Linked DNA regions of Homo sapiens. The protein of the gene in region 3 purifies or fractionates together with the protein of the main gene of each other region. This does not show direct contact. Each region holds a gene or a part of one and is shown on either strand. Other genes may lie near its edges. The genes, in order: ARL6IP6, SLC9A1, AOC3 and MANEA.

What was found.
Region 1: the proteins of AOC3 (region 3) and ARL6IP6 purify together in Homo sapiens (affinity purification with mass spectrometry; 2 studies listed by BioGRID and IntAct, with this or other methods). This does not show direct contact.
Region 2: the proteins of AOC3 (region 3) and SLC9A1 purify together in Homo sapiens (affinity purification with mass spectrometry; 2 studies listed by BioGRID and IntAct, with this or other methods). This does not show direct contact.
Region 4: the proteins of AOC3 (region 3) and MANEA purify together in Homo sapiens (affinity purification with mass spectrometry; 2 studies listed by BioGRID and IntAct, with this or other methods). This does not show direct contact.

Annotation. Positions count from the first base shown.
Region 1 is NC_000002.12:152,721,261-152,728,753, forward strand, and holds part of ARL6IP6 (ADP-ribosylation factor-like protein 6-interacting protein 6), read left to right. Parts: intron 1-7,493.
Region 2 is NC_000001.11:27,109,898-27,117,390, forward strand, and holds part of SLC9A1 (sodium/hydrogen exchanger 1), read right to left. Parts: intron 4,390-7,493; coding exon 3,929-4,389; intron 1-3,928. UniProt on the Homo sapiens protein: Electroneutral Na(+) /H(+) antiporter that extrudes Na(+) in exchange for external protons driven by the inward sodium ion chemical gradient, protecting cells from acidification that occurs from metabolism.
Region 3 is NC_000017.11:42,846,131-42,854,580, forward strand, and holds the start of AOC3 (amine oxidase [copper-containing] 3), read left to right. Parts: upstream 1-5,068; 5' UTR 5,069-5,213; coding exon 5,214-6,813; intron 6,814-7,141; coding exon of another isoform or gene 7,142-7,234; intron 7,235-7,885; coding exon of another isoform or gene 7,886-7,962; exon of another isoform or gene 7,963-8,317; coding exon 8,318-8,450. Other genes in the region: AOC2 (amine oxidase [copper-containing] 2), read left to right, coding at 1-84, 2,956-3,241, 3,471-3,600, 3,952-4,218. UniProt on the Homo sapiens protein: Catalyzes the oxidative deamination of primary amines to the corresponding aldehydes with the concomitant production of hydrogen peroxide and ammonia. Has a preference for the primary monoamines methylamine and benzylamine.
Region 4 is NC_000006.12:95,580,115-95,587,607, forward strand, and holds part of MANEA (glycoprotein endo-alpha-1,2-mannosidase), read left to right. Parts: intron 1-6,287; 5' UTR 6,288-6,325; coding exon 6,326-6,869; intron 6,870-7,493.

The DNA.
Region 1 (7,493 bases), on a different chromosome or scaffold from region 3:
AAAAGAACTTCCTCACTATCCTAGCAAAGGTAAATAATGTCTTATGTAGGCTTCAGGAGGAATTTAAGTTCAAATATCTTTATGTGCAGCTTTTTTTTTTTTTAAAGCATTGACCATCCTTGCACAGGTAAATGACTAGGAGAGTCAGACCTCAGTTTCTGCAGTGTCTGTAGAATGCTGTAGTTCACAGGTTTCCAGTGAAAAAGGTTATTCTATATTTCTCTCCACCAAAATGATTCTGAAGAGTTGAAAACTTTACCTGTCCAGCATATTTTACTCCTATTTGCTTTGATCACTCTAAATTGGGGAGGGGAGATCAAACTTAATCACTCTACATTCGATCACATGAATCAAGTCATTTGATGTGATCACTTTAAATTAAATCATTTGATTTGATCACTGTAGATAGGTGGTTGAGACACTATGACACATGTCCTCCCCTCTCCCATTCTTTCCTAAACTCTCTAATCTACCACTTTATGGCTAATCACCCTTATGGTGACACTAAGTATAGTGTACCTTATTTCAGCAGAAGGGGAAACATGAACCCTTTATCTTCAAATTGCAAAGAAGTTGGTTTCTTAGATATTGCATGGAAACTTTTGTCTGTTCTTGTCAACATCTTGCATGAGAAAACATACTTTTTAGTTACTCATTTTATCAGTGTATGTTTTTACATTGTTTTATCTCTAGAAATAAGCCAAGATTATTAGGCTTCTCAGAGCTTTTATTGATCTGTCACCTCTTGATGCAGTGGAAACAGAATCTTATGAATTAGGCATGAATTCTAAACCTTTTGCTGTTTAAAAGTTGTCCTGATTTCTCATTTAGGAGTAGAATGACGGGCAGTTGTTATCTGAAGGAATGGCTTGCTCAATATCAAAAGGAATGTGATAGGTCTTTTGACATGGTCCTGCTTCCTTTTCCACTTAGGGTTAAATAATCCCATGTTGCTTTTAGGTATGCATGATAGATACTTAATATTTTTACAGCAAATAGGAAAATCATTAAGATTTTGCTAATGGCATGAATTTATTGTCAAGAGTCAGGAATGAGCAGAAAGTGTTGTATCTTTATGGTGAAAAAAACCCAACAGCTATGCCAAAACAAAGCTCATTATTTTGAACCAATGGTCAGATGAGCTCCAGTGGTCAGATGGAGAATAAAAATAGTTAATATCATTTAATGGGCTAATTCAATCAGTTTCCTGGGGGTTAATTTTAAAGAATAGTTATAGCAGATGTATGTATTATAACATATGGATAGAGAATAGTTGTCTCTACCAGAAGAGGATTCTTAAAAATCTGTTTCAGTGAAACAGGGCCAAGATGATTAAGCTCTTAATAAGATTGAGGTGATCGGCCACGCGCGGTGGCTCACACGTATAATCCCAACACTTTGGGAGGCCGAGGCGGGTGGATCACTTGAGGTCAGGAGTTCGAGACCAGCCTGAACAACATGGTGAAACCCCGCCTTTACTAAAAATACAAAAACAAAATTAGCTGGGCATGGTGGCACAGGCCTGTAATCCCACCTACTCGGGAGGCTGAGGCAGGAGAATCACTTGAACCGGGGAGGTGGAGGTTGCAGTGAGCCAAGATTGCGCCACTGCATTCCATCCTCAGCAACAGAGCAAGACTCCAACTCAAAACAAAACAAAAGATTGAGGTAATTGTGGCAACACCTGCCTTTTTTTCTAAGCTGCAATTCTCTACTGTTTTCAAGAAAAATACAAGTTAGCCTATTTACAGAATGTTTTGAATTGACTCCTGTCCTCTGGTTAAAACTCCTCTTGAGATAATTGATAGCTGAAAAGGTAGGATGGTTCTCTCAAACTTGACTTCCATCTAAATCAACGCTGAGTTGATTAACTTAGATATCAAGAAAAATTGCCTCATTAGTTTACCCCTGAGGAGATGCCTATGAAGTTACATCCTTTTTACAATTAATAAGACAGTTTTCACATGAAGAAACAATTTGAAATATTTAATAAGAAAATGTGTTGAAGTCATCCATTACGTTTGGGAAAAGTACCATGCAGCCTTTTATCAGATGATAACGATTTTATTATATTTCACTATTTATTTTGCCCTGTTTATTAGGAACCTCGTAGCCAAATGTAATAATGTTTGATTGTTTTGTATATTACTCTTTATTTCTTGGCATACTTATTATTGCCCACACATGCTATTATCTTAATATTTCCGTGACTCATATTTAAAATTTACTGCAAATTTCCTCATTCTTTGTTTGAAAGTAGGTTGGTTTTTAGAAAAAGCAACGTGAGCACAGTAACTGCTCTACCATGAAAGAGTTCTCTTTCTTTTTCTAGACAGACTGACAAAAATTTTGTACACTGCAGAATTTAATTGCAATTTAATCCTAGTCCAAGATTGGCATGGCAGTCAGTAAGAACAGATTATAGCAGCAATTCTCATTTTGGTATGGGTAACAATCACTTGGGGACTTGCTTTTTTAAAAGCACCTGTAGATTTTGTTTTGGCCATCATGATTTCGTGATACAGAACATTAGAAGTGTTAAAAAAAGTCCAAGAGAAAGGATGTGTGGGAGGTGGCCCATTCTCTTAAAAAGACACAAGTTGAGTAAAACTCAGTTTCATCCTTACAATGAAAATTGATTGAAACTCTGAACTTGAACTTTTTAGCCAGTGTGTGGACTTTATAATTTGAACCTATACTCTATTAAGAAAGTGTTACAGTGCTATCTGTGGCTGGGTGGGGTAGCTCTAATATTTCATCTAAAAAGTCACAAATATCCTATTCTATAGCACAATTTTTGTAAAATTGTCTTACCTATTTGTATTATTCAAGAAATGATGACTAAGGCCAAAAAAAAAAAAAAAAAAGAGAGAAAGCCAAAAAGGACTGGAAGGATATAATCAAAATGTTAGTTTATCTGGGTTTCCGAATTGATTGGTTGTATTTATTATTTTTATTTTCTACAATGTATAAGTGTAACTTGCAATAAGAAAAACTTTAAGGGAAAGCACAAATTTAAGTTTAGAGAATAATGTTTCAGTAATTAACAATAACACCATTTATTGCACTTTTACAATATGCCAAAAGCCATTAATTTGTGTGTTATTTCCTCTAGTATTCTCAACTACACTGTATCCATCAATGTTATTTTCTTCTAAACCAAAACTCAAGAAAGTATGTATTATAATTTTTATACCATAGATAGTCTAGGTAGTATAGCAAGGCAGAAAAAGAATGGGTTATCAGCAAGAATTAGCCATGTGCAGCTAAATTATTAGTCATGAAATTATTACAGGACTCTTCTTAACACATAAAAGCAGTAATAAGAACCAGACATTAGGACCCCTAAATCTCAATAAATTGAGTTGACATTGTGTGGTACTCTGTAGTCCAACTTTGGTGGTTGGGAGGGACGTTTCTTAGGCTAATGAAGTCAAAAGTTAGCTGGCATCAGAATCACCTGAAAGATAAATTTTGCTGCTCTTCACATGGTGCAGAATATCTGACTCAGTAGTGTGAGATGGAGCCCAAGAATTTTCATTTTTGACAAGTTTTGAGTTGATGCTCTGCATGCTGCTAGTTAGGGGGCTATATATACTTTGAACACCACTGGCCTAGTAGTTCCCAAACCTGACATAAAAAAAAAAGCAAAAAAACGAAGACCCTGGAGATTTTCTTTTTTTGCTTTTACGGAATCTTAGACCCTATAATTATCTACTGAATCGAAGTAACTTAATTGGCTGTATGTGTCAGTGTACACTGTACAATCAGGGCTCATTGGACCATTTTTCATTTCTGAATTATTTCGAGCAGTTCTGTTTGTAAGGATTGAAATTTCATGACTTATTCTTTCTTAGGGATCTTCAAAAGAATAAAGAAAACTGAGCTATATTTCTCATAAAGTTTATTTGATCTTGAAATTACCACATTGGTCTATTGGACATTTTTTAATTTTGAAATACGTTTTGGGATTTTAGTGGTCACATATTGTTCTTTCTCAAAACATTCTCCTATTTCATTATTTTAGTATTACTCATCAATTCTCAACTATGGTCGAAAGAATAAAATAATTATGATGGAATTAGGATTCCAGTAAGACTTTCCTAAGACTTTAAGTATTTTTTTCATCTTTTATGAGGTCTGCATCCTAATTTATTTGATACTGTTTGTAAGTGGACAGATGCTAAGGGCAGATGTGTATACAAAGGTGATTTGGAAAAAAAAATGCAAAAAAGAATTATTGGGTTGACCATTTGAATTGTTTGTAATCTAAAAATGAAAATATGTTACAAATTATGGAGCAAAGAAGATTGTTGTCCTCTTTTCGTCAAAATAAGCCATGAAAGGCTTAAAAATTCCTTCAAACATTGTGTTTTAATGACGCAAGTGCAAAAAAAAAAAGCAGGAATAATGACAAGCTGTAACCAATTTGAGATGTATCTGAAATCTGGAAGTGGTATTTACAAGATGGATATGTTGTAGATTCATACATGAAGTTAGTAAGCAATTATTTGCACTCAGGTCGTGCCCATTTTTGGTGTACATGACTTTAGGGAAACTGGGAATTGAAATTCGGATTTGCTGTATTTATTTCTTATGAAAATTTTTAACAAAGTTTTTTTCCTGCTGTCTTTTTGCTCTCTAAATTATTCTTCAAGTGTCATGAAAATAAAGGAAATAAAAAAGCCTCTTTGGACTTATATGATAAAAATATTGATGACTGTTTTCCCTGTTATACTGAAGATTACAAGCTTCAGAGGAGAATATAAATTTAACAGGATTGCCCATGAATTAATTGTTTAAAGCTGGATGATGGGTATATGAGTTTTATATACTTCTCTCAACTTTTTCCTGTGTTTGAAATGATCTGTAATAAAAGTGTTGGGTTTTTTTTTTAATTTTCCCATGTGAATCTAATGATTTACCAATGTTGGGAACTACAGGTGTTATTTATTTTTGAAATTTCAGTCACTTAATCTGTCAGAGGATCACCTTCCTCATCTGTTTCAACAGAAAGATGTAGAAATGCTACAGTCTGGGTTGCAGGTGGTCGGGCGATTGGGTGAAGGCCTTAACCAGTGTAACTGCTATAGCTACCATGCACTCTGCACCCACTATGCTCATGTTGCATTGGCAGGAGAGGAGAGAGCACTTTCCTCTGCTCCTGCACTTGGCTTTGACGTGTAAAGAGACACTTTGCTCTAGGGATTTAAAGACTTGAGCTATCTATAGAATGTGATTTAGAGAGGATACCAAATTATTTAAAATAATGGTCATCCTCTCAAGTTAGAAAACTATAGAATCTAATAAAGTTGAGAACATTTGCTTACATAAACATTTAAAAATTGATGGTTAGTTTCATGCATATGATACATCTAAGTTTTATTAGTAGCCAGCTGGTAATAGTTTTTACAACTTTTAAAGTTAGCTAAGTACAGCCATACACCACATACCATTTTGGTCAACAGTGGTCTGCATATATGCCTGTATGATGGTGGTCCCATAAGATTACAGTGGAGCTGAAAAATTCCTATTTAGTGGCATTGCAACTGTCCTAACTTGGTAGTACAATATATTGCTCACATGTTGGTGTTGATGCTGGTATAAACCAACCTATTACCAATCTAGTTTTATATAACCTTCCAGTCATAAAAAAAAATACAGCACAATTACGTGCAGTACATAACATAATTCTTGATAAACAATTATGTTACTGGTTTATGTATTTACTATGCTTCTTATTGTTTTAGATTATATTACTTCTGCTTAAAAAAAGTTGACTGTAAAACAGCCTCAGGCAGGTCCTTCAGGAGGTATCCCAGAAGAAGGCATTGTTGTCATAGGAGATGACAGTTTCATGCATGTTGTTGCCCTTGAAGACCTTTCAGTGGAAAAAGATGTGACAGTGAAAAACAGTGATATTACCTTGACCCTATGTAGGCCTAGGCTAATGTGTGTGTGTCTTAGATTTCAACAAAGAAGTTTAAAAACTAAAAAATTAGAAATAGAAGCTTATAGAGTAATGGTATAAAGAAAAAACATTTTTGCACAGCTGTACAGTGTCCTTTTGTTTTAAACTGTTAGTAGAAAAGGGTAAAGTTAAATTTTAAAATTTATAAAGTAAGAAAGTTACAGTAAGCTAAGGTTAATTTATTAATGAAGAGAAAAATTTTTTAATTTAGCGTAACCTAAGTGTACAGTGTTTATAATAGTCTATTGTAGTGGACAGTAGTGTCCTTGGCCTTCACCTTCACTCATCAGTCACTCGCTCACTGATTGACCCAGAGCAACTCTTTGTCCTGTAAGCTCCATTCATTGTAAGTACCCTATACAGGTGTACCATATTTTATCTTTTACACTGTATTTTTACTGTACCTTTTCTATATTTAAGTATGTTCAGATACACAAGTACTTATTGTTGTATTACAGTCGCGTGCAGTATTTGGTATAGTAACATGCCGCACAGGTCTGTAGCATTGGAATAATAGGATATAACTGTATAGCTCATAGGTGTGTAGTAGGCTATATACCTAGGTTTTTGTAAGTACGCTCTTGTGATGTACAAACAACAACGAAATCACCTAATGATGCATTTCTCAGAACATATCCCTGTCATCAGTGTATGATTGTATTGTATTTTCATTGTTAGTATCATAAAATGCATTAGTTACGTAAGTAATTTAATCTCACCAGGAAAGATTCCAACAATTAAAGCAAAGGCTTTCACCGATCTACCTGTGTGTCTTTTTACATCTTTTTCTCTTTGTTTACATATGTATAGTCATTTAAAATACATGTTTTTTTCACTGTTATAGGAAAAATATAATTGGAATCATGTATATTTTGCAGCCTTGTTAAAGTGCCTTTTGGAGTATATTCTGTATTAGTATACATAGGTCTACCTCATTTTTTCATGACTGCATTGTATTTCATAATATAAGTATACCAGTTTATTTAAACATTTCAAATGTCAGAATCTCTTACCCAGGACTTGGAAATTACTAGTATACAGTCACGTTTAATCCCATTGTTTACTTATGAAGTTTTATGAAGTGTGTGCAATTGATTGCCTAACACTTATTTAATAGGAAACCTTTCCCTAGTATAGGAACCATGAGAGTTTTGTTTTTTTCTGGTGTATTCTGATTATATATAATATGTGTAAATTGGTGCCTCTGTGTCTGACTTCATAAAACTTCTTGAAAGTTGCCTCATCCCCGTAAGCTAAAACTGTTAAACAAAATGAAAATATTTAGAGCATATAACAGCCTCTTTTGCTGGAAGGTTTTATAGAAATAAAGTTGCCAGCATATTTTTAGAAGAGTAACTGCTCCCTGACACCAGAATGGCTTATTTTGAAAAATAAGCCAAAACAAATATACCCTTAGATAGGTGTCTATAATATTCCAGCAAAGGGATTGGGATAGGAAATTCCTACCCATCCCTGTTTTTGCTTTGGATGAAAACAGTCTTAAGAGGTTTCAATTGATGGA
Region 2 (7,493 bases), on a different chromosome or scaffold from region 3:
GGTAGCAGAGAAACCCTAGTGCCAAGCAGGTGCTCAAAACCTCAGCCTGGGGCTGAGGGGCTTGCTCTGGGCCAGCCACGTGCCCCACTGGTGAAGGGTGGGCCCTGGGAAGCTCTGTGAAGACCCTGAAGCCAAACTGCCTGGACTGGAATCCTGGCTCTGCCACTCCTGAGTTGTGTACAGGAAGCAAATTCATCTCCCTGTGTTTCAGTTTTCCTGTCTATAAAATGAGGATAATAATACCAAATCTTAGGACTGCTGTGAGGACTAAATCAGCGAATCAAGTGCTCGGAGCCTTACCTGATGCAGTGTTAGCCACATCTGGTGCTATCAAGTCTGCCTCTCACTGCCTGACCTTGGGCACGTCATGCCCATCACTGGGTTTCAGTCCCTCCTTCAGCACAAAAAAGGGACGTTCACACAATGAACTAGAATGTCATTTCTTAACCTCTGGAGCTTTCTGAAAATACACATGTTCAGGCCATACTGGACTTGGACTCTCTGGGATAGGGCCAAGAAATCTCTATGTAACAAGCACCCCAGGGGTTGCAATGAACAGCCAAGTTCAGATGCTATGGAATTAGAGGCTAAGGCATCCCTGTCTCCTGGACTGGGAAATAGATGGTCATTGCAACACTACCATCAGATGTTTAAGTGGCACTTCATACACTGTAAAGCCCTTTGATAGTCTTTATCTGAGTCGACACTCAACAACCATGCGAGGCAGGTGGGTCAAGGATGCTCCTTTGCTAAACCGAGGCTCACAGTGGTAAAACAACACGCCAGGGGGCCCCCAGCCCAGGAGCAGAAGAACTGGGCCCAGAACTTATTCCCTGACAGCCATGGCTGAGGCCTCCCCAGCAGGCTCAGCTTTGAGGATCTGCCCCTCCTATTGCTAGGTCCCTGAGCTGCCTGGCCTACTCAAGTCTGTCCTAGACAGCTCTGCCAGGAAGGAGCAGGGAGTTTCCAGGCCTGGGGGAAGGGAGGGAAGGACGTGAGGATCCATGACAGGGAACCCTCCAAAGCCCCCAGGACCTGGAGCAGGAGGAATGGACCGTGAGGAGTGACCTGTCTAGGGCACAGACCTGAGACCAGGCAGCTCAGGGTCAGCCTCTGGCTTTACTCTCTGGGAAATGGGGCACTCACACCTATGCCAAGAGCTCCAGAAAGACCTGACTTGGGCCAGGCAGCAAGGGGAGATGCAGAGCACTGGCCAGGCCTGGTGCGGCCTGGCCCCAGCTGTCTGGGGGATAGGACAGGGCTCCAGCGGCAGACAGCCTCTTAGCAGGTGCGTACTCAGCCGTGGGCTAAACTCATTCCTGGCCTGAGGGGATTCATGGGTCCTCATGGTCTACCACATGGGCCCATGGAGTCGGCACAGAGGGGAAAGTCCTCCTTTCTGGCCTGGTGCTATTACCCCTGGAACTATAGAGAAACAGAGTAACACAGTGGTAAGCACTTGGGCTTTGGACTCAGACTACGGATTTGAACCTCAGCTATATCATATATCAGGCTTATGTAACCTCTCCGTTCCTCAGTTTCCTCATCGCAAAAAAACTGGAATATAACTGTGTCAACCTCATGGAGTTACTGTATAGATTAAATGAGGCAACATAGGCCAGACACAGTGGCTCACGCCTGTAATCTCAGCACTTTGGGAGGCCAAAGAGGGAGCATCGCTTGTGCCCGGGAGCTTGAGACCAGCCCAGGCAACATAATGAGACCCCATATCTACAAAATAAATAAATAAATAAATAAATAAATTAGCTGGGTGTGATGGCCAGCACCTGCAGTCCCAGCTACTTGGGAGGCTAAGAGGGGATGATCATTTGAGGAGTTTGAGGGTGCAGTGAGCTATGATTGTGCTACTGCACTCCTGAGTGACACTGTCTGTGTGACAGGAGACTCTGTCTCTAAATAAATAAATAAAAATGAGGCAATACACATTCAGACAGGAAGCACCCAATGAACACCAGCAATCACTACCACCGCTGCCACTGCCTTTGGGAGACATGACCATGGGTCCACAAATGGCTGGGTCTGTTACCTGCTTGATGCAACCATGCCCCAAGCTCCACAGCAGTGCTCACCTGAACCCCAACACCCAGATCCCACTGGAGAGGGCTTTATCTTTGGCACTCACTGGCTTCACAGACATTAGTGAGTATGACTCACTAATGTAAGTAATCCTGTAAGAAGCCTGGGAGGATGACAGGCTGAGTACTGCAATCCCTGTGTCACAGATGGGGAAACTCAGGCTCATGTGGTAACCCTGGGCAAGAGCTAGTGCTAGAGGAAGCCAGGATGGAGGCCTGCCTGCTCAGGTCAGGCTATTCTACCCAGCCCCATGAGGAGGCGTGGGAGGAACAGGAAGCTGAGGCTGCCAGCAGCTGAACACCACAGTCTGTCTCTACTCTGAGGTGCTGCTTCCTGAAGGCTGGGGCTGCAGAGGAGGGAGTCATGGCCTGGGAATGCACATGTGCCCTTGAGCTTTCCTGTGTGTGCAGCTGCTCTGAGCGGGACAGCTCAGGAGGGGGTGGGAGTGTTCTCACAACACAACGTGAGCATGCACATGCACACATCTGTTTCCCAAGGAAACCAGCTGGGAGGAAGGGCATGTGCAGGTGTATATGGTGCTACCACGTGCAGACCCTGGAGGAAAGCACTAATCCTCTGCCACTTTGCAGCTATCAAAGGTGAGGCTGGCTGGGCGCAGTGGCTCATGCCTGTAATCCCAGCACTTTGGGAGGCTGAGGTGGGCGGATCACCTGAGGTCAGGAGTTCGAGATTAGCCTGGCCAACATGGCGAAACCCAGTCTCTACTAAAAACACAAAAATTAGCTGGGCATGGTGACACACGCCTGTAATCCCAGCTACTTGGGAGGCTGAGGCAGGAGAATTGCTTGAACCTGGGAGGCGGAGGTTGCAGTGAGCTGAGCTTGCGTCACTGCACTCCTGTCTGGGAGACAGAGCAAGACTCCATCTCAAAAAAAAAAAAAAAAAAAAAAGGTGAGGGCCACAGAGGTATAGCATTTGCTTAAGGTCACACAGCAAGCAAGTGGCCAACTTCTTTTACTTATCACCTTCTAGATGTTTTGGAGACAAGGCCCCTTTCCATAATCTCCGCCCAAAAACTGTGCACAAACCGAATTCTAACTTAAGATATAGCCAACATGAGAGCTGAAAGGCCCCTCACAGATGATATGGTCTGTGAAGAGGGAACTGAGGCACAGAGAGTGTAAGTAATTTGCCCAAGCTCACATCAAAATGCAAGAGAAGGGCCAGGCTTGTTGGCTTAGGTCTGTAATCTCAGCACTTTGGGAGGCCGAGGCAGGAGGATGGTTTGAGGCCAAGAGTTCAAGACCAGCCTGGGCAACATGGTCAAACCCCATCTCCACAAAAAATTTAAAAAATTAGCCGGGTGTGGTGGTGCATGCCTGTAGTCCTAGCCACTCGGAAGGCTGAGGCAGGAGGATCTCAGGCCCAGGTATTTGAGGCTGCAGTGAGTTATGACCGTACCAGTTCACCAGCCTAGAAGACAGGGCAAGACCCTGTCTCTTAAAAAACAAAAAGCAAGTCAAGTCAAGGAGGGAGCATATAACCTAGCAAAACCAAGAGCTTAGGCCCTGGAGTCAGTCAGACCTGGTTCAATCACAAACTGGTTCATACTCCAACAGGTTATTTAACTTCTTTGGGCCTGTGTCTCCCCTGGAAAATGAGAATAATAAGCACCTCTTAAGGCAGCCATGAGGACTTAAATGAGATAATCCATGCCGAAGGGCTCAGCATGGTGCCTGGCATACGGGAAGCGGGAATGTGCCTCAGCTGTTTTTATTACTGTTATTAGCGGGTGGATGAGGGATTCACTGGTGGGCCTGGATTTGGGTTTGTACCGTTTGGACATGGGCATGGCCCCTGGCCTCCTCACCACAGTGACGGCGTCATTGAGCAAGGACTCCCCAAAAACAAGGATGTGCAGCAGCTCATTGATGTGAATTTCCTCAAAGACAGCCAGAACCGCCACGGGGTCCACGGCCGAGATGATGCTGCCGAAGAGCAGGTTGTCCAGGAGGCCGATGTTGTTGATCTGCTCACCGCCCACCAGGCACACGGCGTACATGAGGCCGCCCAGGAAGAAGGCGTTCCACAGCGTGCCCACCACGGCAAAGATCAGGATGGTGCCCAGGTTTTCTGTGAACTGCCGCAGTGGCAGGAAGTAGCCCGCATCCAGGATGATGGGCGGCAGCAGGAAGAGGAAGAAGACGTCGGACTGCAGGAAGGGGGGTGTCTCGCCTACACCCTTGATCAGGCCCCCCACCAGCAGCCCCACCACGATCAGCAGGCAGCTCTCCGGGACGATGCTTGAGATAGTGGGGATCACATGGAAACCTGCGGAGGGCGAGAGAACGGGAGGCCATGGGCTTTCGGAGGAGCCAGGAGAATAGAAGGTTGGGGATGGGCCGGGGATGAGGAGCGCAGTTGGTGAGAGGTGCACAGGCTGGGTCTCAGAGGGCTGCTCTGTTAACTCTCTGAGCCTCCGCTTCCTCGCCTGTAAAATGGAAGGGACAATGCTAGCTTCACAGGTTTGCCATCATAAACCAAGTGACAGTGTTTTTAAAGCACTTTTTTCAAAGGATATATACATGCTATCTCTGTCACTGTCATAAAATGTTAGAAAGCAGCAGTTCTATATGCTTCCAGAAGGCAGAAATTATAAATTGATTACTGACGTGCCAAGTACCTACGGGCATCACCTACGCCTGAACCCAAGGCATTATTCCAGGCACAAGTTCAGGGAGGCAGATCTGAGCTCAACCTGAGGAATAACAATCTAACAATTCTGTCTGAGGGAAGATGGTAGTTCCCTATCACGGAGCTGTTTAAGCAGAAGGCAGACAACCAGCTGGTGGGGAGTGGCATAGGAGACAGAAGAAAGCACAGAAGAATCTAAGAATACCAGCGTGGGAAGGAACTTGGGGATAATAAGGCCTGGGGTCTGCAAACCTGCAAAACAGTAGGCTTTCCTACTGAGTCCAGGCAGCTGCTCAAGACACGGCTCAAGGATGTCAGTGGCAACCAGCTTTGGCAGGTGAGATAAAATCTATTTGCTATCCCGCTTCTAGCTCAATGCCACCCACTTTAAAGATGGGGCAACTAAGGCTCAGAAAAGGGAAGGGACTTGCCCAAAGTCACACAGCAAGTGGGGAGCAGAACTAGAATAGAACACAGGTCTGATGCCCCAGTTCCCATCAAACTGCACAGTTCTGTAATTCAAGCTCTCCTATCCTTCCCTCCCATCAAGGCCTCCTCACACACCCCTCTGCCTGGGACCCACCAGCCATCTCCCCAGGCCGTGTCCTGGCCAGCAACAGGCCGCTCTGCTGTAGTCCACCTTAAGGCTTCAAACCCAGAGCTGAGGAGTAGCAAAAATCCCCGTTGAGAGGGCCTCTCTCAATATCAGGTATGGCCAGAGAACCCTGAGCTCCTGTGAGTGGTTTACTTGTTTGTTTTGTTTTGGGGTGGGAAAGTAGGTGGAAAAAAATCTGAGCATCTAGTTGTATGTTGGGTACTATGCTCCCAGGGTTGGCATAGCCAAGAGGGTTTGTCCCTTTGCTCAAGAGGAAAGCTCTCTCTGGCCTGGCATGGTGGCTCATGCCTGTATCCCAGCATTTTAGGAGGCTGAGGTGGGAGGAACACTTGAGGCCAATAATTTGACACCAGCTTGTACAACATAGGAGACCTCATCTCCACTTAAAAAAAATAGCTGGGCATGGTATGCACCTGTAGTCTCAGCTAGTTAGGAGGGCCGAGGCAGGAAGATCACTTGAGCCCAGCCTCAAAAAAAAAAAAGAAAGAAGAAAGCAAAGCTCTCTCTCCTCCCCTTCCCTATCTTGCAAGCTCTGTGCAGGCAGATCCCATAACTGCTTATCATTATACACCCAGGGCTAGGACACAAGAAGTGCTCAACAAATATCAGCTGACTTGAAAATACACAGGGCTGGGACATCACCCAAGATTTCCGATAACCTGCATGCCTGGCCAGGCCTCTGCTCTCATTACTTACTCTTGAGATCCTTGGGACAGAGGAGGAACTTCCCTCTCCATGCCCAAAGCCCTTCCTACTCTCAGGTAGGAATCTGGGCAGTGCTAGTACGGTGACAAGTCAAAGTTCACACTGCTGGCTGGGCACGGTAGCTCACGCCTGTAATCCCAGCACTTTGGGAGGCCGAGGTGGGTGGATCACCTGAGGTCAGGAATTCAAGACCAGCCTGACCAATATGGTGAAACCCTGTCTCTACTAAAAATATAAAAATTGGCCAGGCGTGGTGGTGGGTGCTTGTATTCCCAGCTACTTGGGAGGCTGAGACAGGAGAATTGCTTGAACACAGGAGGTAGAAGTTGCAGTGAGCCGAGATCACGCCACTGAGCTCCAGCCAAGATCACTCCACTGCACTCCAGCCTGGGCAACAGAGCAAGACTCCATCTTGAAAAAAAAAAGTTCACACACTGAACACTATCCAGGCCCAGAATCCTGGCACAGTGCCAAGCACCCTGAAGACACTCAAAACACATTGGGAAAAAAAGATGTCTCCATCCTAGGCCAAGAGGACCTCGAAGGCACCATGTGCATTCTCCTGATTTCAAAATAGACATGACCAAAAGTCACTTTTTGTTCATCTACTTCCCACATCAATAAAAGGGAAAATAATTCCAAAATCACCCCTTTTGCTGAAAAGTCCCCCAGTCTTTGTACTGTCCACCAGTCAACATCCAGTGTGTAGCTGGCTGGTCCACTGGGAAGGGCTAGTCATGTTGGACCCAAGTCTCTCTTGCTGTAGAGGATAAAGCCCACATTTTCAGCACTGCCTCTGTCATCTGCTCTTGCCTCATGTCCCATTCTCCCCACTGTCAACTCTTAGGTTTCAGCCTTGCCAAATTCCTTGCAATTGCCCCATATGAGCCACATCCTCTTTTGCCTGCCAATCTTCACCTAGTCTAGTTCCTCTCTCTAGAAATCATTCCTCTACCTCTACCCCCACCATATGTGGCTGACACCATATCCTCTGCCTGCCTCCTCCTTCAGGAAGCATTCCCTGACCACCACCTGTCTGCTCAGGTTAGGGCAGGAATCTTCTGGTGCTTCCCTCTCTCATAACCTTCAATCCACAGTCATCTCCCAGGTTCCTCTCTCTCTTCCTGGCACCCACCGAGATCAGTCAGACAACCCAGGCAGAAGCAGCTGAGACAAGACAATGGCATCAGACCCCAAAGACCTGCAGTGTGCTGGAGGGGAGACAGGCACAGCGCAGCGGAGATAAGCAGGATGAAGATTTAGGGGAGCAGAGCTCCTACAGGCAGGGGCCAGAAAGCACCTTCCCAAGGCCGGAAGTCCAGCTCCAGCCAGCTGCATGCTGACCCCCCTCCACAGCCTCCCTGCCCCTGTCCTGGCGTTAGCACCAAGAGCTGCCTTAAGAGAAGGCAGAGTCTAAAGA
Region 3 (8,450 bases):
TCTTTGGGAACCGTGTGGGGGAAAGAGTGCTGGGAACGGTGCACACACATGCCTTCCACTTCAAGCTGGACCTGGATGTGGCAGGTGAGTGCTGAGGGGATGAGGATGGAGACTTGGGGGCGGGGTCAGGTGGGGTGGAGGGAAGGGAAGGGAATCTCCCAGGTCAAGCTGAAATAACAAGTGGCAAGAGCAGGGTGTTCCAACACCACAGCTCTAGTGGCAACAGGGCAGGGACTGTTTGAGCATATTCAGTGCAGTGAGTCTGGTACTGGGCTACTGGGTATCTGGTAAAAGGTGAAAAGAGTTCCCCCGCCCAGCCCCTCTGACTTGCTATGATTGTGAAACTAGTTTAAATGTAATGGCTGGGCATGATTGCCTTAGCCTCAAGTGACACTGGGTGGGTGAACTGGCCCAATGGGGCTGGAGTTGGAGCACTTTGCTTCTTCCTAATTCTGAGGGTCAGTAGGGGTGGGGAGGGCAGGGTCCTGAGCCGAGGTCGGAAGAAGTCTGTCCAGAGTCTTCAGGGTGGGGGTCGACCTGGGGCTTAGGAAGGAGAGGGTAGCAAAGCTGGGGTTGCTCCCCAGGATAGGGCCACTCCTCATCGGGAGGGCCATCCCATTCCTGTCATCACAGTTGACTCATGGCAGGCACACAGCTTGCTGCAAGTATGGAAAGAGATTTCTCAAGCACAAAGGGCTCAAAGCACACAGAGGACTTGCTGTTCCTGACAGACTTTGTCAAGGACAGAAAGGAACTTACAGACTCACACACTGATCCACAAAGAAAATTAGAAACTCACCAGACCCTCTCCATTTTAAGGGAAACTAAGGAGGGTGGCGGGAGATGGGACAGGAAATGACTGCCCAAGTATAATGCAACATAAACTAGTATTTCTTGTGAAATGTTTTCTTATCCTCAAGTCTAAAGACATGGCACGTGCGTGCCTGCGTGTGTCTCTGTGCATGCACTTGCACTTGTGTTCGCAGTGGTGTGGAGGGTAGGAAGGACTAATAGCATGATTGAAATGATCATATTAACTAGATTACTCTTTGACATACTTGGATTTTGACTTGTCTTCTGATTGGAAGTTTTTCTTCAGCATCTTTGGCATTAAAGAGGCTTGTTTTGGGAAGTAACATTTATTGGACCCCTAGCGTGTGCAGCATGGGCTGCTGCTGTGGGCCAGAGAGGCTGTGTCAGGCACCAGCTCACAGGATGGCTGCAGAGGCACCAGCTTCAGTGCAGTGCCTCCCGTGCCAGGTACCTTCATATAGGTCTCGTTGAACTTACAGTCCAGACCTGCAGAAAGTGTATGACCAAGTGCTGAGTTAGGCAGTGCAGGTTATGGATGCTGTAGAATTCCAAGGAACTCCCAGACAAAGGTATGAATGTGCTTGCTTCTGAAAAACACTGACAGTACTTCCCACCTTGCTGAGATCAAAAGTGAAGTCTCAGAGCTGGGAGGAGTATGCAGGGGACCATGGGAAGGGATTGGGTTTTCTTTTTTTGAGGCAGTGTCTCACTGTCACCCAGGCTGGAGTGCAGCGGTGCAATCACAGGTTACTGCAGCCCTGACCTCCTGGGCTCAAGCAATCCTCCTGCCTCAGCCTCCTTAGTAGCTGGGATGACAGGCATACACTACCACGCCCAGCTTTTTTTTTTTTTTTGAAGACAGAGTCTCACTCTGTTGCCCAGGCTGGAGCACGGTGGTGCAATCTCAGTTCACCGCAACCTCCACCTCCCAGGTTCAAGCGATTCTTGTGTCTCGGCCTCCAGAGTAGCACACCACCACACCTGGCTAATTTTTTTAAATTATTTATTTATTTAAGTAGAGATGGGGTTTCACCATGTTGGCCAGGCTCATCTTGAACTCCCGGTCTCAAGTGATCCACTCGCCTCGGCTTCCCAAAGTGCTGTGAGCTACCATGCCCGGCCTTTTTTTTTTTTTTTTTTTTTTTTTTAAGAGGCAGTGTTTCATTCCGTTACCCCAGCTGGTGTCCAGCACCTGGGTTCAAGGGATCTGCATCACCCTGCCACCAGCCTCCTGAGTTGCAAGCTGCCACACCCGGCTCAGGAGTCAGTTTTTCAGCTAGCTTCTCCAAGACAAATATCATTATCCCTTTCATAGTTAAAAGAATGTCACTAGTCAGCTGCAAGTGCTTTTCTGTTTATTGGGCACAGCCATAGAACAGCTTTAATTATGCCCAGTGTAGGGATTCAGAAAGTGAATCAGAGAAGCAAATTGGTCCAGGGACTGTTTGGTAGTCCAGTGCTAATAGAACTTTCTGTAGTGATAGAAATATTCCGTATTTGAGCTGTGGCTCTAAACAATAGTCACTAGCCATGTGTGGCAACTGGGCACTTCAAGTGTGGCTAGTGTGACAGAGGAACTGAATATATATATATATATATATACATATATATATATATATATATTTTAGACAGAGTCTTGCTCTGTTGCCCAGGCTAGAGTGCAGTGGTGTGACCTCAGCTCATTGCAGCCACAACCTACTGGGCTCAAGCAATCCTCCTACCCCAGCTTCCCAAGTAACTGGGACCACAGGCATGTACCACCATGCCTGGCTGATTTTTTTATTGTTTGTAGAGTCAGGGTTTCACCACGTTGCACAGGCTGGTCTCAAACTCCTGGGCTCACATGATCCACCCGCCTCAGCCTCCCAAAGTGCTGGGATTGCAGGTGTGAGCCACCTCAGCTGGCCCTAAGTTTTAATTTTCATAGCCACGTGTGGCTAGTGGTTACCCTATCGGATAGGGCAAGTTGGAAGAAGATAGGAGCTTGCTCTTGCCCAGACCTCCTGGCTCCCAGCACAGTGTGCTCTGATGCTCTCTCTGCCTTTTGTCACACCAGTGCAGTGGACATCATGGGGAAGACAGGGACCTGGCCCAGAGACCTTACCTGGTGTGGAACTCATCTCCTTTCCCTCCCCCTGGCAGGGCTGAAAAACTGGGTGGTAGCTGAAGACGTGGTGTTTAAACCTGTGGCTGCCCCCTGGAACCCGGAGCACTGGCTACAGCGCCCACAGCTGACTCGGCAGGTCCTGGGAAAGGAGGACCTGACAGCTTTTTCCTTGGGAAGCCCCCTACCCCGCTACCTCTACCTGGCTAGCAACCAGACTAATGCGTGGGGTCACCAGCGCGGGTACCGAATCCAGATCCACAGCCCCCTTGGCATACACATACCCCTGGAGAGTGACATGGAGAGGGCCCTCAGCTGGGGGAGGTGAGGAGGGCCCTGGCCTGGGTGGAAGGAAAGGACAGCCCCTCCCCTGCCCCAGTCCTTGGAGACAAACTCCCTTCCCACGGCTACCATTCATCCCTGTACCTCCCCTCAAACCCAAGTTAGATACACGGTGGGAAATGGTCTCACACAGAATCGGATCTAAGGGACTCCTGGGCCAGTAAAGGCACTTGACATTTCCCAAAACCACCTTCTTATGATTCCTGGCCAGATACCAGCTTGTGGTGACCCAGAGAAAGGAGGAGGAGTCACAGAGCAGTAGCATCTATCACCAGAATGACATCTGGACACCCACAGTTACCTTTGCTGACTTCATCAACAATGAAACCCTCTTAGGAGAGGTTGGTTGCCCTAGGGACATAGGAAAGGGACACCTGTGGGCATGGCATCTTGGCTGCCCAGCCTCTGGCCAAAGGTTAGAGGGAATGGCTGATTTCCAGTTCGCAGATTCAGAGGCCATGGAGTTTTCTGATGACCAACACAGGTCATCCCTCCTGGGGTGAGATTAGCTCTGGGACACTGGCTCCCCCCTCTCCCCGCACAGCTGCTTACATGGATTGCTCCACGTGTTGTATGGGCATGAGGCTGGGGAGAGTGGAAGCCAGGCTGAGACTGGAGGCTGGGATTGTGACTGAAGGGTGGTTCTTTGGGTCACGCTTCCATAGTCCTCCAGCTCCTCCTTCTTCTTGCAGGATCTGGTGGCTTGGGTCACAGCCAGCTTCCTGCACATTCCCCATGCCGAGGACATCCCAAACACAGTGACTCTGGGGAACAGAGTTGGCTTCTTGCTCCGACCCTATAACTTCTTTGATGAGGACCCCTCCATCTTCTCCCCTGGCAGTGTCTACTTTGAGAAGGGCCAGGATGCTGGGCTCTGCAGCATCAATCCTGTGGCCTGCCTCCCCGACCTGGCAGCCTGTGTCCCGGACTTACCCCCTTTCTCTTACCACGGCTTCTAGTCCTGAGGGTGTGGCGGGCGGCGTGGTTAGGCACATGTACTTTTCCCTGTTTCTACTTTCTATTCTCCGTGTTTTTATCACACCTGCTCCCCAGATTCCCACCCCCTCAATGTTCCTCTCACACGAAACCCCCATCAGTCCCTTTGGTTAATTCTTACTTCCTGTTCATCTCTAAAGTGTTAAATTATAAAAATGATTTTTAAATATTCAAAGAAAAATATCACAAATCCTACTACTCAGAAATAGGTGGTCACATTACATCAGACATCTCTTTATGCATGTGCATTCAAAAGGAAGAGTAGATAGAATTTTGTAAAACAGATGTTGTATGTAATTTATAATAAAAAGTATTAGAGGAATTTTACTTGAATTTATTGTTTGACCTGTTAAGTATCTAGAGTCCTCTGGAGAATACTAAGGAGTCTGGCCAGGGAAATTAGCGCTGGGGGCCAGAGGGCAAGGGGGATAGACCTGGCCAAGGAATGTCATTTGGAAAGCTAAAGGGGCAGGGGGTGGGGGTCTTTGGAAGGAAAACGATAGTTTGAAGTTACAGGAAAATATCTGGCCCTGACTAAGTGGGGGACTGGGGAAGAAGCTGGGCTGAGGTCAGGAGAGGCTGCTCTGCACAGATCCTGCTCCTTCCCAGTGCTGCATTATCTTGAAATTTTCCTTCCCCTTCCCCCTAGCCCCAACTCTCCCCAACTCCAACCCTGACCCAGAAAGTAGAGTGATTTGGAGGCTGGAAGACAAAACCATGTAAGGTCTGTGGAAATCACAGCTGTTCAGACCCGCCTCCAACCCCGGCCACCCCGCCCCCTTGCCCTAGCCTTCCTGTGTCCTTCCCACCCTTAGTCCCAGGCATCTGACTACCGGGAACCTCAGCCAGAGTCCGGGAGCCCCCCACCCCGTCCAGGAGCCAACAGAGCCCCCGTCTTGCTGGCGTGAGAATACATTGCTCTCCTTTGGTTGAATCAGCTGTCCCTCTTCGTGGGAAAATGAACCAGAAGACAATCCTCGTGCTCCTCATTCTGGCCGTCATCACCATCTTTGCCTTGGTTTGTGTCCTGCTGGTGGGCAGGGGTGGAGATGGGGGTGAACCCAGCCAGCTTCCCCATTGCCCCTCTGTATCTCCCAGTGCCCAGCCTTGGACACACCCTGGCCAGAGCCAGCTGTTTGCAGACCTGAGCCGAGAGGAGCTGACGGCTGTGATGCGCTTTCTGACCCAGCGGCTGGGGCCAGGGCTGGTGGATGCAGCCCAGGCCCGGCCCTCGGACAACTGTGTCTTCTCAGTGGAGTTGCAGCTGCCTCCCAAGGCTGCAGCCCTGGCTCACTTGGACAGGGGGAGCCCCCCACCTGCCCGGGAGGCACTGGCCATCGTCTTCTTTGGCAGGCAACCCCAGCCCAACGTGAGTGAGCTGGTGGTGGGGCCACTGCCTCACCCCTCCTACATGCGGGACGTGACTGTGGAGCGTCATGGAGGCCCCCTGCCCTATCACCGACGCCCCGTGCTGTTCCAAGAGTACCTGGACATAGACCAGATGATCTTCAACAGAGAGCTGCCCCAGGCTTCTGGGCTTCTCCACCACTGTTGCTTCTACAAGCACCGGGGACGGAACCTGGTGACAATGACCACGGCTCCCCGTGGTCTGCAATCAGGGGACCGGGCCACCTGGTTTGGCCTCTACTACAACATCTCGGGCGCTGGGTTCTTCCTGCACCACGTGGGCTTGGAGCTGCTAGTGAACCACAAGGCCCTTGACCCTGCCCGCTGGACTATCCAGAAGGTGTTCTATCAAGGCCGCTACTACGACAGCCTGGCCCAGCTGGAGGCCCAGTTTGAGGCCGGCCTGGTGAATGTGGTGCTGATCCCAGACAATGGCACAGGTGGGTCCTGGTCCCTGAAGTCCCCTGTGCCCCCGGGTCCAGCTCCCCCTCTACAGTTCTATCCCCAAGGCCCCCGCTTCAGTGTCCAGGGAAGTCGAGTGGCCTCCTCACTGTGGACTTTCTCCTTTGGCCTCGGAGCATTCAGTGGCCCAAGGATCTTTGACGTTCGCTTCCAAGGAGAAAGACTAGTTTATGAGATAAGCCTCCAAGAGGCCTTGGCCATCTATGGTGGAAATTCCCCAGCAGCAATGACGACCCGCTATGTGGATGGAGGCTTTGGCATGGGCAAGTACACCACGCCCCTGACCCGTGGGGTGGACTGCCCCTACTTGGCCACCTACGTGGACTGGCACTTCCTTTTGGAGTCCCAGGCCCCCAAGACAATACGTGATGCCTTTTGTGTGTTTGAACAGAACCAGGGCCTCCCCCTGCGGCGACACCACTCAGATCTCTACTCGCACTACTTTGGGGGTCTTGCGGAAACGGTGCTGGTCGTCAGATCTATGTCCACCTTGCTCAACTATGACTATGTGTGGGATACGGTCTTCCACCCCAGTGGGGCCATAGAAATACGATTCTATGCCACGGGCTACATCAGCTCGGCATTCCTCTTTGGTGCTACTGGGAAGTACGGGAACCAAGTGTCAGAGCACACCCTGGGCACGGTCCACACCCACAGCGCCCACTTCAAGGTGGATCTGGATGTAGCAGGTAAGACATTTTGGTGGGGAGAAGGCTTCTGGAAGAAGGGCTGAAAAGTTGTTTCCATTAGCTTTGGGTTTTATGTAGATTATCCCAGAAAGGAAGACGTGGATTTTTGTACTTCCCCTTTTGCTGGATGGGAGAGAGTTGGCTGCTGAGTTTTATTTGGATCTTAGCTCACTGGCTGGGTGCAAAGCTGCAGCCTTCCTCTACGTGACCTCATCCAAAGATCTTGGGAAATGGCCGAGCTCAGGGAGGAGGCAGGATTTGGGCTAACAGTGTCCCCATTGCCCTCTTCTCTCCCTTGTACTTATATGGGCTCTGCTGCTGGGAGCAGCCTTCTGTTTGTCAGCTCAGTTCTGTGTCTGGCCTGTGGTGGTGGTGTTTTGGAGGATCTCTTTGCATTCTACCACGTCCCTGGCATGTGCAGGTCAGTCATTCCAGGTTGTACATTTCCTTTGGAGATGGACCCTCCTCCCTGATTTTCCTTCTTTCTCTGGGCACAATTCACCTAAGTGTGAGGGGTCACATGGATCCCGTGGAGCATTCTGGATAGATCCTGGAGTCTGGTCACAGAGAGAGCCAAGGCTACATGATGGCTTGGAGTCTTCATCTTTGTCTTTTCACTGTCTTTCCCCACATTGAGTCAGTCACCAGGTGTTTTTTTTTGGTTTTGTTTTATTTTGTTTTGTTTCTGTTTTGCACCTGCAGTATCTCGGCAGGTCAGACTGTCATGCCGTGCAGGTGCCAGCCCTCTCTCTGCTGTTTTTGCTCTTGTTGCTCTCAGAGCCAAGAGCCACTCTGCACCCAGAGGGCCTCCCATCCACACCAGCCTGCCCTTTACTCAGCTCTCACTTTCGTCATCACCTGTGGGATCCTGTCTGCAGAACCCCCTCAAAACTCTTTCCTTCACGGTGCAGCTCCACCCTGCCTTGCTGTGCTCTGCACAGCTACACCCAAATTCTCCATGTCCCTGGACACGCACTTCACATGTTACAGTCAGGCATCCTCCTGTTTGCTTATGCTTTGTCTCTGCTTAGAATGTCCTTCCATATCATCTTTTCTGGTAATGTCCTTTAAGGCCAGGCTGAAAAGTTGCCCGGAAGGGCCCCCTTTTCCTGCCTGCAACTGTATTCCTGTGATCCGGAAGTTGCCTAGGCCATGCTCCTCTCACAGGACAGGCCAGTCAGTGGTTTGTCTGTCTGCGTGGAAAGCAAGAGGGTAAGGATGATCATTCATCTCTATCCCCAGGGACGAGTACAGTCCTCTCTGCTAATGAATGTTGAAAGAATGAATGAGTGAAATGGAATGAACTCCCTGATGAAGTATTTTAATTTACAGGTCAACAGCTTTGGCTAAAGGATTGGAGGTATCCTGGGGAGAGGGAAGAGAAGGAGGGGCACACTCAGTTCTGGGCTGCTCTTTGGCCCCCACTCTGAAGCCAGATGGGGGCAGAGTCCAGAGGGGCCAGGGCAGTTGCCTGACAGGCCCTCCCCTATCCCACCCTGAGCAGGACTGGAGAACTGGGTCTGGGCCGAGGATATGGTCTTTGTCCCCATGGCTGTGCCCTGGAGCCCTGAGCACCAGCTGCAGAGGCTGCAGGTGACCCGGAAGCTGCTGGAGATGGAGGAGCAGGCCGCCTTCCT
Region 4 (7,493 bases), on a different chromosome or scaffold from region 3:
TTATTGGATCTTTACGATTCTTTATAATATGTTCAGTATACACCGTAAACTTATCAAGTGTGTATACGGTCAGTAGTCTATATATACACACACACACAGATATACATATATATATATACACACACACTGCCTGAATACCAATGAAACAGCAAAGAGCCAGAAATTAACTTTTTTAAAGCTGAACACTTAATGAACACTATGTGAAAGATATGTTATGCTCTACTAGAATGTGAAGATAAAGACTCCATTTCTGAAACTTAAGGAGCAATCTAGTAGGTGATATAAAGATAAATGCACAGCATGATATAATACATAAGGAATGACAATTTGGCCGGGCACGGTGGCTCACACCTGTAATCCCAGCACTTTGGGAGGCAGAGGCGGGTGGATCACGAGGTCAGGAGATCGAGACCATCCTGGCTAACACGGTGAAACCCCATCTCTACTAAAAATACAAAAAATTAGCCAGGCGTGGTGGCAGGCACCTGTAGTCCCAGCTACTCGGGAGGCTGAAGCAGGAGAATGGCATGAACCCTGGAGGCGGAGCTTGCAGTGAGCGGAGATAGTGCCACTGCACTCCAGCCTGGGCAACAGAGTGAGACGCCGTCTCAAAAAAAAAAAAAAAAAAGAAATGACAATTTAAAAAGTAAATACTGTTAACAATAAAATATATGAGGAATAAGTACTTTTCACTGTGGAATTAGGAGAGGTATCAAGAAGAGGCAGCATTTCAACTTTGACTTGAAGGTGACTGGTATTTCAATAGTTGGTCATATAGAGAATAGGCATTTAGAATAAAATGTGTTATATTTTAATTGCTTGTCGGACACCCATCTTTAATCATCATCATAAACAATTGCTCATTTATTTAGTCTTATACTAAGCCACATGATTTTGAGAGTTTTACAATATTAACTAATTTCATCCTCACAAAAATCCTATGAGTGAAGTAATAACTCATTCTATGGGTGAGGAAAGGAACTCAGAAAGATCAGGTCAGTTTTGTAGGTCAGATAACTAAAAAATGGCACAGCTGGAATTTGAGCTCAAGCATTTGAACTACAGAGCTCATATTTTAAATCTCAATGCCCATCTGTGTTTATTTAGGTTGAGATGACTTAATTGAGACATGGAGGTTGAGCCAGAGCCAGCAGATCATCTCTTAAAATTGAGCTTGTGTGTCATCTATAATGATGTGATAAACACACATTTTAATTGAATGAATGAAGTAATGTAAAATGAGAAGACAGAGGATCAGCTTAAGAAATTACATTCATAGGCAAGAGAGAGAGAAAAAAAAACAGCTTCCATAAATGGACATTTTGTGCTTTGTATTCATGAGTGTATCCAGAAAATGAACCTAAGAAATTTTTTAGAGTTTCCAATATTTCTTCACTTTTCATTTATTTATAAATTCATTAGTATTTACTGTTTGATTAAAACATTACTGTTTCAAATTGTCTTGCATGATTCACAGAATAGTTTTATCAGTAGGCAAAACAGATACCCTCTTTTTTAAGAAAAGGCTAAGTGATTTACCCAGGATCACACAACTAAGTGTGACTGATTTGAATTTACATCTTAAGATTTATTATATATCTTGATCTTTCATGAATCTCGCCATTCAGCTGAAGTCAACGTTTCAAAAATGAATGCCTTACTAATTTATAAATCTGTTAGTTATTTCTCCTTTCTCTGTAACTCTTCCAACATTCATTACCATTGTTTTTTTCCTTATAGAATACCTATCCAAATGTTTTCCTTCTGAAGTATTATGTTCTACTTTTAGAAAACAGAGTAAGAAAATATCACTGTTGTCTCATCCAGACATAACTATTTTACATGTTTAAGTATATTTCCTTCTATGTGTATCTTTAATACAGATATGATATTATATATCATAGTAGTTGATATATTACATCCAAAATATTATTTTTGCTTCATGTCTCATCAAAATTTTCCCTTTCTTCAATCAAAGGGAAATGTTTGTTGTGATGTCAATGATTTGAAAATTTCAGGACAACAAATTACAGTGGCATGCCAAAATGGTTGTATCATCTTTTTTTTTTTTTTTTTTTTTTTTTTTTGAGACGGAGTCTTGCTCTGTCGCCGAGGCTGGAGTGCAGTGGCGCGATCTCTGCTCACTACAAGCTCTGCCTCCCAGGTTCACACCATTCTCCTGCCTCAGCCTCCCGAGTAGCTGGGACTACAGGTGCCCACCACCATGCCTGGCTAATTTTTTGTATTTTTAGTAGAGATGGAGTTTCACCGTGTTAGGCAGGATGGTCTTGATCTCCTGACCTCGTGATCTGCCTGCCTCAGCCTCCCAAAGTGCTGGGATTACAGGCGTGAGCCACCACGCCCAGCCCATCCTTTTATACCTGTTAGTGCAACAGGACTGCCACAGCTCACATGTAGAAATTTCACTTCACAGAGTCATGTAGTGCAGGGTTTGAAAGACTTTGTGACTTAGCCCTTTCCAGAAATAAGCAGGTATGTTAACAGCTCACATTCTTCTATTTACTGCTGGGATAAATAGCACAAACAATTTCTGTTTACTTTTCCTGCATATTCACCATATGGTAATATTTTACCATATTTGCTTACCATTATACACAAACACACATACCCTTACTTATTATACGTTGCATTGTATGTAAGCCATACATTTTATATATAGTGTATGTATGTGGTGTACATATATGTATGAATATGTGTGTATTTATGTATATGTGTGTATCCTCTCTTTAATATATTGTCTCATGGTTCCTCGTGATTAGATCTGGATTAATTTTTAACAAGAGTACCACAGCAGTGATTCTGTGTTTTTCTCAGTACGGGTTCGCTGAAGACTAATGGCCATACTTATTTATCCAAATTAACTGATAAAGTCAATTTTGATCACTAGTTTAAATTGGTGTTTTGGTAGGTTTTCCACTGTTATTATTTCCCCATTTGTAATTAATTAGATATCTTCTGGAGGAACATTTTGTCAGTATGTATATAGTTATTAAAACAAAATCTCCAGACCTGTCTACCTATTCCTTTACTAAAAGTTCATTTACATAGCTTTTTATTAGAGAGGGAGGGAACTGATGTGATGGAATGCAGGGATGGGTAAGAGTTAGGATACCAGGTAAAGTGTCAGAAAAGATTTAGTAATTAATATTGTTTCCCAAGAGTTTTATAAATTTAAATACATTTAATTATGTATATATAATCATACATATTTATATCTAAATATATATGACATGTATCCATATATAACATAAGATGCACAATATGTAAATACACATATATGTGCATGTATGTGTACATATGCACATACACACGTTTATGTATGTACCTGCATGCCTTGATATATTTACAGTATGCATATCGTATATACAGTATACATATATACATATATGACGTATATATGTACACACACCATATTTACTTAAAGTTTGAAACAGACAAAATACAGTTAACTTTAGTTAGATATGCTTGTGTGCGGTGGGAAAACTATAAAGAAAGAAGAGGTGAAATGGTAAACACAAAATTCAAGCAGTTGCCCTTAGGCAGGGAGAAGGGCAGGACTGGTGATTCAGAGGGAGCACGAGAAGTGGAAAGGAGCTTTTAAGCTGGCAGATTTCTTTTTGAATGTTTACTTTATATGTTTTAAACTAGACATGTCTTTTATACTATTCTTTTATGTTATTCTTTATATTATTCACTATTCACAATTAAACAAGATTAACCTTAAAAATAATTCTTATGATTTTAGCTGTTAAAGAAATATACTTGGTTAGTTTAGTGTTTCTTAAATACATGTAGAATAGTGTTGTGGGAAGTCAGGGACCCCGAACGGAGGGACTGACTGGAGCTGCAGCAGAGGAACATAAATTGTGAAGATTTCATGGACATTTATCACTTCCCTAAGAATACTCTTATAATTTCTTATGCCTGTCTTACTTTAATCTCTTAATCCTCTTATCTTCGTAAACTGAGGATGTACGTCACCTCAGGACCACTATAATTGTGTTAACTGTACAAATTGATTGTAAAACGTGTGTTTGAACAATATGAAATCAGTGCACCTTGAAAAAGAACAGAGTAACAGCGATTTTTAAGACAGCGATAAAGTCTGACTGCCTGTGGGGTCGGGCAAAAAGAGCCATATTTTTCTTCTTGCAGAGAGCCTATAAATGGACGTGCAAGTAGGAGAGGTATCACTAAATTCTTTTCCTAGCAAGGAACATTAATATTAAGACCCTAGGAAAAGAATTGCATTCCTCGGGGGAGGTCTATAAGCGGCCGCTCTGGGAGTGTCTGTCCTATGCGGTTGAGATAAGGACTGAGATACGCCCTGGTCTCCTCCAGTACCCCACCCTGGTGAATTTGAGGTCAGACTGGTTCTCTGCTCTCGAACCCTGTTTTCTGTTGTTTAAGATGTTTATCAAGACAGTAGGTGCACAGCTGAACATAGACCCTTACCAGTAGTTCTGTTTTGCCTTTTCTCCTGTTTCCCCAGAAGCATGTGATCTTTGTTCTCCTTTTTGCCCTTTGAAGTATGTGATCTTGTGAGTTACTCCCTGTTCTTGGACCCCCTCCCCTTTTGAAATTCTTAATAAAATTTGCTGGTTTTGTGGCTCAGGTGGGCATCATGGTCCTACCGATATGTGATGTCACCCCCGGTGGCCCAACTGTAAAATTCCTCTCTTTGTACTCTCTCTCTTATTTCTCAGACTGGTTGACATTTATGGAAAATAGAAAGAACCTACGTTGAAATATTGGGGATGGGTTCCCCCGATAGAATAGAAGCAGCAGTTTGTAGGAAGTTTCACTTGTCTTTCTTTTCTATTGGAGTTAAGTCTTTTTTAACTTAATTCTCTATAATAACAGCACCGTATCATAGAACTCATTTTATAAAGCAGTCAATGTCAGCATTGTGCCAAATACCTTTCTAATAAGAAATCTGTATATAAAAAGACTTGAATATTTCATTCATATGGTGTATATGTACCTATATACTTATACTCATATATATATATATATACACACACAACAATAATGTCTTTTCTTAATCAGCCAAGAAGCACTGCATTAATATATGTCCATAAACATACTTACTAAAACAAAAACACATATAATACCCTTTCAGAAGTTATAAATTACTGTTTATAACCTCTGTTCAGTAAGATTTTCAGAGTCGTAAGTTAATTTTATTTTTGGAGACGTTTTCTTGCACTGTCACCCAGGCTGGAGTGCAGTGGCACAATCATGGCTCACTGCAGCCTTGACCTTCTGGGCTCAAGCAATCCACCTGCCTCAGCCTCATGAGTAGCTGGGGAACTACAGGCACACACCACCATGCCTAGCCAATTTTTTAAAAGTTTGTGTAGGGATGGGGTCTCCCCGTGGTTGTCCAGGCTGGTCTCAAACTGCTGAACTCAAGTGATCTTCCTGCCTCAGCCTTCCAAAGTGCTGGGATTACAGGCATGAGCCATCATGCCCAGCCTAATGAATTTTTTGAAAAAATTGGGAATATCTTACTTGTGATTATTCTTTTTTTCTCTACTGTCATTTAAAAAATTTTGTCTGATTCTATTTCACTTCAAAATGTTATTTAAAATTTGTAATTTTTCCCTTTTATGAAATTGTTAGTTAAAAATTTTTTAGAAAATCTGTTTAATGACTGGGTTTTTCATACACTAGTAAGTATTTCCTTTTTATTAACTGTGATTTGTAAATTTTACACTTAGATTTAGAAAATTTTAGTTCAGGCCAGGTGTGTGGTGACTCATACCTGTAATCCTAGCAATGTGGGAGGCTGAGACAGGAGGATCGCTTGAGCCCAAGAGTTCAAGACCAGCCTGGTCAACATAGTGAGACCTTGTCTCTACAATAAATAAATAAATGATTTTTAAACAGAATTTTAGTTCACATACATAGAATGTTCCCTTCCTACATTCAGCATACATGTAATCTGTTCAAGTAATGAAAAACATATTTTAATTTCTTAAATAAAATTTCCTAAAGGTTCGTCTGACTAAACGTAATTGGCATGTACATGGTGATATATCCAAATGAATATTGCCGTTTATTCTAGCCATAGACCCTTATTGTACACATTTATATATGATGATATAATTAATGTCTTCACTTTCTTAATTTCACCAATATGTGATGAAATCAGTATTAATTATTCAATGTAATGAAATTTATGGATTTTAGTTTTCGTGTTGAATATATTGGAAAATACTGTTGATAACACTTACTAATTATCTTTTTTCAATAAATTGCAGCAAAACACTTACTATTTTGGAGTTTAAAGTATGTCATCATGGCAAAGTTTCGGAGAAGGACTTGCATCATTTTGGCACTTTTTATTCTATTTATTTTCTCTCTGATGATGGGTTTAAAAATGCTGAGACCAAATACAGCTACTTTTGGAGCTCCTTTTGGACTTGACCTTCTTCCAGAACTTCATCAACGAACTATTCATTTGGGGAAAAATTTTGATTTCCAAAAGAGTGACAGAATCAACAGTGAAACAAATACCAAGAATTTAAAAAGTGTTGAAATCACTATGAAACCTTCCAAAGCCTCTGAACTTAACTTGGATGAACTACCACCTCTGAACAATTATCTACATGTATTTTATTACAGTTGGTATGGAAATCCACAATTTGATGGTAAATATATACATTGGAATCATCCAGTGTTAGAGCATTGGGACCCTAGAATAGCCAAGAATTATCCACAAGGGAGACACAACCCTCCAGATGACATTGGCTCCAGCTTTTATCCTGAATTGGGAAGTTACAGTTCTCGGGATCCTTCTGTCATAGAAACTCACATGAGACAAATGCGCTCAGCTTCAATTGGTAATTATTGTATATATATATATGTGTGTTTGTGTCTGTATATATGCATATAAATGATTTTTTGTGTAACTTTACTAGTTAATTTTCTCATTATTATTAATTATATTGTTAAGCTCATACCTCCAAATTAAACTGTATGTATGATCTTAAACATCCAGGCAACCACATTTTAACACTGCCCTTAGTGTATATTGTTTAATTTTTACATTTTGGAGCATTTCTGGATATATTGTTGATTTCTAATTTAATTCACTTTCTCAATTTTATTAAATTATGATTTACATAAAATACAATGAATTTCCCACTTTAAGTTTATAGCTCATTGATGTTACTCAAAAGTATATACCTGTTTGAATACCACCCCAATCAAGAAGTAAAATATTTCTATAGCCCAAAAAGTCTCATCATAATTCCTTTATTCAGGCCTACCTTCTCCCCTACCGCTGAAAACTGTATACATATCAGCTGGATCTGATTTCTATCAGATCTGATTTCTATCACTGGAGAATAGTTGTGAGTGTTCTATTACTTTATGAAAATAGAGTCATTCAGCATTTGTATGTGTGTATGTCTTTTGCTCAGCACAATATTTTGAACTGCACTTAACTATATCAATAGCTTAGT